Linked DNA regions of Homo sapiens. The protein of the gene in region 1 interacts with the protein of each later gene in a pairwise test. Each region holds a gene or a part of one and is shown in the gene's direction. Other genes may lie near its edges.

Evidence for each region.
Region 2: the proteins of FRA10AC1 (region 1) and TTC14 interact in a two-hybrid assay, tested with the Homo sapiens proteins (one large-scale study listed by BioGRID and IntAct).
Region 3: the proteins of FRA10AC1 (region 1) and HABP4 interact in a two-hybrid assay, tested with the Homo sapiens proteins (one large-scale study listed by IntAct).

Annotation. Positions count from the first base shown.
Region 1 is NC_000010.11:93,696,079-93,699,734, reverse strand, and holds part of FRA10AC1 (protein FRA10AC1), read left to right. Parts: intron 1-1,338; coding exon 1,339-1,434; intron 1,435-1,553; coding exon 1,554-1,599; intron 1,600-3,656. UniProt on the Homo sapiens protein: May be involved in pre-mRNA splicing.
Region 2 is NC_000003.12:180,608,241-180,611,630, forward strand, and holds the end of TTC14 (tetratricopeptide repeat protein 14), read left to right. Parts: exon of another isoform or gene 1-460; coding exon 461-570; exon of another isoform or gene 571-1,389; coding exon 1,390-2,302; 3' UTR 2,303-2,890; downstream 2,891-3,390.
Region 3 is NC_000009.12:96,484,593-96,488,248, forward strand, and holds part of HABP4 (intracellular hyaluronan-binding protein 4), read left to right. Parts: coding exon 1-41; coding exon of another isoform or gene 42-65; exon of another isoform or gene 66-67; intron 68-3,496; coding exon 3,497-3,656. UniProt on the Homo sapiens protein: Ribosome-binding protein that promotes ribosome hibernation, a process during which ribosomes are stabilized in an inactive state and preserved from proteasomal degradation.

The DNA of each region.
Region 1 (3,656 bases):
GTCAAGGACTGTTTATTTGTAAATGTTGTAGCTCAGAAGGGGCTTGAATGGTGGTCTCTTGCCATTACTTGCCTTCAAAGTGAAGTTAATATGGAGGATGAAAGTATAATGCAGCACAGTTCTTACGCATACGTGAATGAGCAGACTAAGGTCACGGGAAGAAACTCAAGGAAGGTTTTTTTGAATTGCAAGAGACAAAAACTCTTAGCACATAAAGCCTGTGCGTTATAAGCAGGATACGTCTTGGTGGAGCTGCTGTGCGTAGGAGCATTGTTCTTAGCTTTCAGTGCATAGAAACTCAGTTTTATACTTTGACTCAGGAGTGGTTGACTGATGTATACTAACCAAACTTACACGGCTGTTGACTGATTTTTTTAAGCAAATGTATAGAAATTGGCTTATTATTTCACACTGAGAGCAATATATTAGGCATACTAACAGGTTCTGAACATTTTTATAGGATACTCAGTCTCTGCAATAAAGGATAGTACTAATTATAATAAATTACATTTTTGATGCTTTACATTTTCTAGATTTTTCATTCAAAAATACTACTTTGTAAGAATAGAATTTGAGCAAATCTAGTTGGATACTCTGCTCCAGGATTATATTCATCACTATAACTAGGGCTGACAGTCTATGGCAGGGTGTCCAGTCTTTTGGCTTTCCTGGGCCACATCGGAAGAAGAATTGTCTTGGGCCACGTACTACAGTGGAGCACACACAATTGTGAATCTGTTGGTTCACATTGTTGGCCTGAAGCAGTGCTGGGCCTGCGTAAAATACACTAATGATAGCCAATGAGGTTTAAAAAAATGTGAAAAAGTGTCTTAATGTTTTAAGAAAGTTTACAAATTTGTGTTGGGCCACATTCAAAGCCATCCTGGGCCACATGAGGCCCATGGGTTGGGCGAGCTGGATCTGTGGTTTGTGTTCTCTATAATCAGCCTTGCTTTTTGTGTATCATTAATTACCAAAAACTTCCTTATCACTATGTTACAGATAGAGAAATGAAGAAACAAAGAGATAAATAATTGAATCTTATTAAGATTAAGGTAGTAATTGACAGAATTAGGATTTGAATCAGGAAGCTAGGTGATATGACACTAGAGTCCATGCTTTTGTTAGTTTCATCTTCCCCGTGTTATAGGTATTAAAATAATGTTAAGGTATTAATTAAGCTATTTAAGGAAATGTAAAATATCTCATTAAAGATCAGTGAGTCTTCTTAAAGTTAAGACTTACATTCTTTAAAGTATATTCCAGTTATGAAAATATAAAGAATTAGAAAATAACCTTTGAAAAAAGTGAACTCTTATTTTCTTCTTAATATATCAGGACAGTTGAAGATGACTTACTGCTCCAAAAACCATTTCAGAAAGAAAAACATGGAAAGGTGGCCCATAAACAAGTTGCAGCAGAATTGCTGGATAGGTATGGTATTTCAGTGTCAATTCTATTTCTTGGTTTAAGTTGCTTCGGATTAGGGGATTTGATTATGTTAATTTGAATATAAACATTTTGAATTTTCTTAAAAAAATTTGTTTTAACAGGGAAGAAGCAAGAAATAGAAGGTTTCATCTCATAGCTATGGATGCTGTATCCTTTTTTTATTTCCAGATTTTTATAACTAGTAGAATATTTTAAAATCTGCTTTTTTGTTTTATAAAATCTTGTGAAGTCAAATAGGCTTTTTTATTTTTAAAGATAAGTATTTAGTGATGTAGGATTTTGCCATTTATACTTTTGGGTACAATTCTCTTTTACTAATATATAGGAAAGATTTAGAGACAAAAATAATAAAACATATTACTAGTACTCTATAAATAGGTTTATAAAGTACATGAATCTGCAAATATATTTTCCAAATTGTTTTTTCAAGCTTTCAACATTTCCTTTTCCTATACTTATCTTTAGTCTCATTTTAATTTATTCTCTTCCTACCTGGTTCTTTGCTATTTAAGGTCTCTATAAAACTTGTATTTAAAATTAGGTCTATCCAGTCTGTCCCTGGATCTAAGGAAAAAATAAAAATAAAATGAGGCCTGCCTGTGGACTGTCCTCAGGCCTGCCATGGCTTTAATTTTTAGGCATGACTTAAAGCTATCTTTAAGATAAACCCTGCTTCCTGGTTATAGCCATTTGTCAACTCAGTTTTTTAATAAGACTGGCTGATGACACTAACTGCTACGCTGGCCATCCATACTGCTGTTGAGAATATTGGAGAATTTAAGAGATACCAAGCAAAAACTGAAGTATTTTTGGGTATTTATTGCTGTGATCAGAATTGGGAGAAGGAGACAGTGTCAATTTGATACGCCCCCTACCTGTAATCATCTGTTTCACTGTGCTATTCCAATATTTTTCTTTTAAGTTATAGAAGTACCATTGTGTCACTAATTGATTTATTCTTCTTATCTCCTAACCCAATAGCTAGCTTTTCCATGGATCTCATCTGCCATTTGTTCCTTTAGCATTTAAACATTTGCTCTGCCTTCTCTGACACCTACTGCATTGGGGGCACCTAGTTATAGCCTGGTGAGAGTGAAAGTATGGGTACTCTTTTTTCTGGCATAGGAGGAGTTGGAGCCACAGTTTTTTTTGTTTGTTTGTTTTTTGTTTTGTGTGTGAGGATTTATTTTATTTTATTTTTCTTTATTTTATTTTATTACTTTAAATTCTGGGATACATGTGCAGAACGTGCAGGATTGTTACATAGGGTATACATGTACCATGGTGGTTTGCTGCACCTATCAACCCATCACCCTCACCCTTCCCCGCCCACCGGCTCCAGTGTGTGATGTTCCCCTCCCTGTGTCCATGTGTTCTCATTGTTCAGCTCCCATTTATGGGTGACAACATGTGGTGTTTGGTTTTCTGTTCCTGTGTTAGTTTGCTGAGGATGGTGGCTTCCAGCTTCATCCATGTCCCTGCAAAGGACATGATCTCATTCCTTTTTGTGGTTGCATAGTATTCCATGGTGTATATGTACCACATTTTCTTTATCTGGTCTATCATTGATGGACATTTGGATTGGTTCCATGTCTTTGCTATTGTGAATAGTGCTGCAATAAACATACATGTGCATGTATCTTTATAATAGAATGATTTATATTCCTTTTGGTATATACCCAGTAATGGGATTGCTGGATCAGATGTTATTTCTGGTTCTAGGTCCTTGAGGAATTGCCACATTGTCTTCAATAATGGTTGAACCATTTTACATTCCCACCAACAGTGTAAAAGTGTTCGTATTTCTCCACAGCCTTGCTAGCATCTGTTGTTTCCTGACTTTTTAATAATTGCGATTCTGACTGGGAACCACAGTTTTCTCTGGGTTGTTTGACAAGAGTAGAGTAGTTATTGTCTCAAAGTTGTCTTGCTAGGCTGACTCTTGGTCATTTGGTTAGAGAGAACAGCTTTTGTTGACGATTTTTTAGTCCGTGCCTGTTGGTGTTTCCGGGTTGTCACCTTCTTTACCTCCAATTCTAGGATACATGAGACAAAAAGAAAACCTAGGGAACTCGCTATCATGTCATACCATAGGTCTTCAGGAGGTCCCTAGCGGGGCGCCTTCTTCCTTCCACCTTTTAGAGTCTTTTTATGTTTGATATATAATGTATAAGGATTTTAGTTGTTATTAGTATGAGGAATAG
Region 2 (3,390 bases), on another chromosome or scaffold:
ATCCAACTGGGCTGTGCTATTTTTTTAAATGGTTTGTATTTGAACATGGTGATTCCTCCTTCACTTCACCTTAACGGAATGTCTTTATTTGAATTTTATTTGTAAAATGTGTCCTGTTTAAATTTTTCAATCTTTAAAAATAATTTTTATGTACTTTTTTTTTTTTTTTAACCTTTCTTGCACTCTGGGTCATGGGTACCACTGCAATGGCTTCCCCTTTTTTTATGGGATACCAACTGCAATATGGTCCTCAATGCTGTTCTGGCCATTTCAATGACTAATGCCAAACATCTGTATGACTAATTTTTTTATGTTAAAAAAATACTGTTTAATGCTGGCTCTATGGTGATTTGGTTTTACTAAATTGGGTTTCTCGTTGGGGGTGGTCTTTTGAATACTGGGTTTTATATATTCTGCTATTTTTAACGTGTGGTTTTTTTCGATATCTGGGTTCTAAAAGAAATCTTTGGAATTAAGAGAAAAACAAGCTGAAAAGGAAGAAAAGCAGAAAACAAAGAAAATAGAAACAAGTGCAGAAAAGTTGCGTAAGCTCTTAAAAGAAGAGAAGAGGTAAACTATAATATTCAGTATTTTTAAACTTAAGGCAACTACTGAATTGAACCCAAAGTGCCATACTGGAGGTAAAGTAAATAAAAATATGAAAGTATTTCAAGTGCCAATCAGTGACTGTTAAGAATCTTTAGCAAATATGTGTTCCATGTATTTTCTTATTAAAGAGATGAAGTGGAATTTAAGGCTAGAATTCTACAAAAAAAGAGTATCTTAGAATTAAAATATAGAATAAGTTACTTTAATTATGTTTTAGGAAGAAATATTTTAGAACTAGAGCAGTGGTTCTCAACTAGGGGTGGATTTATTCACCCGGGGACATTTGACAAGATGTGGAGACATTTTTGATTGCCATAACTGATAGGGTGCTACTGCATCTAGTGTATAATGGTCAGGGATGCTCTTAAACATTCTGTAATGCACAGGTCAGCTCCCACCCGCACCCCCACCCCCTACCAAGAATTATTTGGCTGAAAATACCAATAATCAGGTGAAGAAACCATGAACTAGAGGTAGCCAAATAAAAAAGTTGAGTTCTCCTTTATGTGTTCAGTAGTCTTAAGTTTTTAAGGTAGTGTTGAAAAAAGTCTGTCTTTCAGAGATGATGGATTTGCTTACAATGATACCTGTCTGCAAGCATTTTTTCCCCCAAAAGTGCTTAATAGTAAAATTAGATCTTGTAGTAGCCGAGATTATTGTATCATTTATCTGAACCACAGCTTTTATAAAATCTTTAAAGGAAACAAATAGGGCCCACATCTTTATGAATAATTTAGAAACATTTTTGTATATATATGACAAATGAACTGTTTTTTTTAGGCTAAAGAAGAAAAGAAGAAAATCAACTTCTTCTTCAAGTGTTTCTTCTGCTGATGAATCAGTGTCTTCATCATCATCCTCTTCCTCTTCTGGTCACAAAAGGCATAAGAAACATAAGAGGAACCGTTCAGAGTCTTCTCGCAGTTCCAGAAGGCATTCATCTAGGGCATCCTCAAATCAGATAGATCAGAATAGGAAAGATGAGTGCTACCCAGTTCCAGCTAATACTTCAGCATCTTTTCTTAACCATAAACAAGAAGTGGAGAAACTACTGGGGAAGCAGGATAGGTTACAGTATGAAAAGACACAGATAAAAGAGAAAGATAGATGCCCTCTCTCTTCATCTTCACTTGAAATACCGGATGATTTTGGAGGTAGGTCTGAAGATCCAAGAGATTTTTATAACAGCTATAAAACCCAAGCAGGTAGTAGCAAAACAGAAAAGCCATATAAATCAGAAAGACATTTTTCCAGTAGAAGAAATTCCTCAGATTCCTTCTGTAGGAATTCAGAGGACAAGATTTATGGTTATAGGAGATTTGAAAAGGATATAGAGGGAAGAAAAGAGCACTATAGAAGGTGGGAACCAGGTTCTGTGAGGCATTCTACCTCACCAGCAAGCTCAGAATACTCTTGGAAGTCAGTTGAGAAATACAAAAAATACGCTCACTCTGGATCACGTGATTTCAGTAGACATGAGCAAAGATACCGTTTAAATACAAATCAAGGAGAATATGAAAGAGAGGACAATTATGGGGAGGATATCAAAACAGAGGTTCCAGAAGAAGATGCACTAAGTAGCAAAGAACACTCAGAAAGCAGTGTTAAGAAAAATTTACCTCAGAATTTACTGAATATATTTAATCAGATAGCTGAATTTGAAAAAGAAAAAGGAAATAAGTCAAAAAATTAATACACCAAGGATATCGGCACCATTACACAAAATGCCATTAAGTGAAGTTTTTGGTTGTATTAGTCATAACAGTTGAGTGCAGAAATCTCTGCTTCTAAAATTATTTGTAGAGATTACAGGAAACAAATGCTTTTAAGTAAGTTTTTCTCAAATTTTGTTTCAGTTCTAGGTCCCTTGTCACAGCTTGGTTTTTAGACTTTTTATGTATATGTTTATGTACAGTATATTACTCTTGACAGTTTGAATTTCTTCACCTAAAGATAATTCTCTGAAAGTACTGTTTCTTCATTCTATTGCGGTATATGAGAATTCCTGGGTGCATCTTATTCTGCTGTTTGAGAGAAAAATTTGTGCATTGAACACTTGGATCATTTTTATAAAAATTAATTTCATTTTCTTTTCTGTTAAATTAAAAATCGTCAGCTTTTGAAAGATTATATGTTCGAATGTTTCTTGAACACTTTTATATTTATCAGTTTAAATATTACATTTTTTGCCCAATTTTTTTTAAAATTTTTAAATGGTAGATTATATGTCTTAATTTTCCTCTAAAGCCCAATTTGATTAAAAGTGGTTTGTGAACAGTCATTGGCTTCCACCCAGCATAAGTGCCTTAGGAATAAGATCATAAAAGTTGAATAGGAGCCCATTTTGCTTATTTCTCCATTATTTTTTACCTCATTGCTAGCATAGCCATAAAAAGCTTTTTAACTTTAAATATTTACAAGGCCCTTAGGGCCTGTATTCCACGCAAGGGTAAATCAGAAAAGAAAAAAATCCTTTTAGCAAAAACATAGCAGTAGCAGAGAAGCACATTGTAAATCTGGCTTTTCTTTAGGGAAAGAAAATTGGGAGACTCTCCTAGTGTAGCAGATGTTCAGTCCAGAAGGCACTAGGCATGTCGTTAAATCTGACCTGCATTTCTTCTTACCACCTCCTGTGCCTTGATGCTTCTCTGATGACCCCTTTCTCAGAGTCTGAATAAATAACTAGACCAACTAGAGCCTGGTTTTACTAAGAATAATAAATTCCAGCAGCTAGAGCTGAAGAACAAAGAGACTTGGATTATAAAGATCCTCCCCAAATTG
Region 3 (3,656 bases), on another chromosome or scaffold:
CCAAAGCCGTGGTGATTCACAAGTCAAAATACAGAGATGATGTAAGCATTGCATTTCGTATGTAGAGGTAATCTTTACTTTTACCTTACTGGAAGTGAAATGTACCTTTCCACTTCTGTCTTGAAAATGGAACATTAGTAGTTGGCAGTCTTTGTTTCTAATCAGAGATGATGCATGCCTAATTTTACTGTATTGTTCATTAAGAAAAGGAATTGAAACTTGAGGTATTGACAGATGCACAGAGCAGTTAGAGTGACAGTGCATCTTCTGCTCACCCTGGGACTATGCGGGTACTGTACACATACTGTGTATTAACTGTATTTCATTTTTCTCAAGGGAGAGTTACAGATTGTGTCTTGTACAATTCAGAGTTAATCAAAGGAGAACTACACTCTGTGTCCCCTGAGTAGGTTACTTTCAACTCTGTTTCTTGATAAGAGCATTTCACTGAGTAGTTGATGACTTTTTTTTTTTTTTGAGATGGAGTTTCGCTCTTGTTGCCCAGGCTGGAGTGCAGTGGCGCGATCTTGGCTCACCGCAACCTCCGCCTCCCGGGTTCAAGCGATTCTCGTGCCTCAGCCTCCCAAGTAGCTGGGATTACAGGCATGCGCCACCACCCCGGCTAATTTTGTATTTTTAGTAGAGACGGGGCTTTTCCATGTTGGTCAGGCTGGTCTTGAACTCCCGACCTCAGGTGATCCACCAGCCTCAGCCTTCTAAAGTGCTGGGATTACAGGCGTGAGCCACTGCACCTGGCCGAGTAGTTGATGACTTTTTAAACTGTGGTTGAGGTTCCATGCACTTCTGACGCCTTTCCCATGTTGGTTCAGCAGCTTTGCGCCCCCTGCCTAACTGCAGACGTGGCGGGAGATGAGTCCCCGAACGCTTGGCTGCTCGGTCAGGCACTGCCACAGCGGCCAGCGTGCTGCAGGGGTTGCTCAGGGAGCTCCTCCGTGTTGTGAGGCCTTATTGCTCACGGCTTACGTCCAGCTCTTCTCAGAAGCTTCAGTTTTGCAGGGAGAGGTTTCGGGGAAACATCTAGCAGCATATGTTGATAGGGATGCCATGGGGTCATCAAGTCCCCGACTTGTTACTGAACTTAAGGCTAGGTCCACTGAAGCATTCCCATTATGGGATTTAGAATCTGTATCATTCCATCTACAGCTTGATACCAGTCACTATTTCGAGGTGGGAGTGAGCAGGTAGCAGGTTCTTCCTCTCTGTGGGGTATTAGTTATTGATTTTCATGTGGAATCTCAGGAATGTTATGCTATTGTAGAGTTGTCATTTACACTTTGGTTAGTTTCATTTTCTGAGTGAGTACTTTGATTAGGTGTCATTTAAGATACAGGGTTCTTGGGAGGCCAAGGCAGGTGGATCACCTGAGGTCAGGAGTTCGAGACCAGCCTAGCCAACATAGTGAAACCCTGTCTCTACTAAAAATACAAAAACTAGCCGGGCGGTTGGCGGGTGCCTGTAGTCCCAGCTACTCGGGAGGCTGAGGCAGGAGAATCGCTTGAACCCGGGAAGCAGAGGTTGCAGCAAGCCGAGATCACGCCATTGCACTCCAGCCTGGGCAACAAAGTGAGACTTCGTCTCCAAACAAAACAAAAAAAAAGATACAGGATTCTCTCCCATCCTCTTGTTTTGGTCAGTCCAAGCTGTAGGAGGCCTTACTGAGTTTTGAGCTGTTCCACAAGAAATGGCTTTTTGTAGACATAGGCGGCCGGAGCTTTATTTCCCTGGCAATCTCTGGGAGGTGTTTTCTAACTCCATTAGCAAGCTGGGTTGGTTCTTAACCTGTCCACTTCCTTTGTTCTTTTTTGTTCTAGGCATTGTAAATAAAAATTTCTCTAAAACAAATGTGCTGTCAGGATTGAAATATGCAGCTGACATGTTAGGTAAAAATAGAAGCTGCTCTTTCTTAATCCACACCAGATTTGTCCTCCCGGGCTCCAGAGGTCTCCCAGAATATTTGAAGCAAGTGGGTTAGCTGAGTCATCAAGCCTGGTCTCAGTGAAGCACACATCTTGGTCCTTGTTAATCTTGGAGGATTGAAGATTTTAGCTAGGAATTGTTCTTAAAGCAACACAAGCCAGATCTTGGGTTCATCAGTTTACTTTGTTCTGGACACCTGAAGAGGCAGAAGCACTAGAATACCTAGCAAAGTTCAGACCTAGTAACAACCTCGCGTAAGGCACTGGGCGGTGAAAGCACTTGGGCCAGGGCCAGCTGGAGCTGCAAGTGGAGCCCAAGCCTTAGACTGTGTCCACTCCCTGCTCCACTGCCCCGAGGCCCTTCCTGCCCCTTCCTGCAGTGGGAGGCGACTCAGAGCAGGGACCCCAGGGAGACCTTACCAGCGCTTCCCTGCTGAGTGCCAAACAAGGCAAGGGTTGAGTATTTTGCCTGTTACTATTTTTTGTGTGTATCTTTTTACAGAATGCCAGTGCTCCTGGACTGTTTTTCTTCACCTTTTTAGCATTAAGCATCCAACTACCTAAAGCCTCTGCTTTATTTTAACCTGAGACCTCAAAGGGGACACAAATGTTAAACATGAAGGCTGTCATGAGCATATGGCCTAAAGGTGTTGATATGCTCGTGGAAACTTTGCTCCATTTCCTGGTTGTAGGAATGTTTAATGTTGTAGCACTTTGGAGATTCTCATCTGAAATCACTGACATATCTTCCTTTCTGTAGGTTTTTACTTTACTTAAAGTGGGGTTTTTGTGTGTGTGTGTGTGTGATACCCATTATTATGAGTTGAAGCCAAATCAAATTTGGATCAGATTTAATTAATTTATTTAATATAGCTGTCACAAGAGATAGAATTTTAATGAAAGCAGTTCTTAAAAAGCAGCTTGACTTCTTTGTGCAGTGTTGGTAGAACACTCAGGTAACCATACTCTTGTTTTTATAAAGTTTCTCTATATTTTGAGTCAGAATTGTTTATTATAAATCATGTGATTTTTAGCACATGGTATTATAATCAGCACCCATGCTGAAAGGAATTTCTCTGTTAAGTTCTGTTCTGGGAAGGGGATATTTCCTTATTTATCAAAGCATTTGTGAACAGATAAGACAGAAAATAAGCAGAAATGAAAACTTTTTTATCTCAGCAAAATACACTTAGATATAAAACATGTATATTGTTTGCTATTATTAGTCATGCCAAATCTTATATCTTAACCTGCTCAGCTGATAGAAATTTGGTCCCACTTGAAATCATAATAAGTTCAAAGATGTTTGGATTAAGATTGTAATTGCAAGAATGTGGGACTCTAGAACATACAGAACTCACTGTCTTAGAATCAGAACAGCAGTGCTGTCTTCCTTTGTCCAGCTCTGCAGCCCAGGGCCAGAGACAAATCCAGAGAATGGCTCTGACTAGCCCCTGATGGTGTTTTAGCTCCTGTGTAGCACACTGCAGCCACTAAGCCAGATGAGTGTGGGGATGGCTGTGGACTTGTGCGTGTTTGATGCTGTAATTGTGTTTCAGATGGTAAAAGATGACTATGAGGACGATTCCCATGTTTTCCGGAAACCCGCCAATGACATCACATCCCAGCTGGAGATTAATTTTGGTAACCTCCCTCGTCCTGGGCGTGGAGCCAGAGGAGGCACCCGGGGAGGCCGGGGAAGGATCAGGAGGGCAGAGA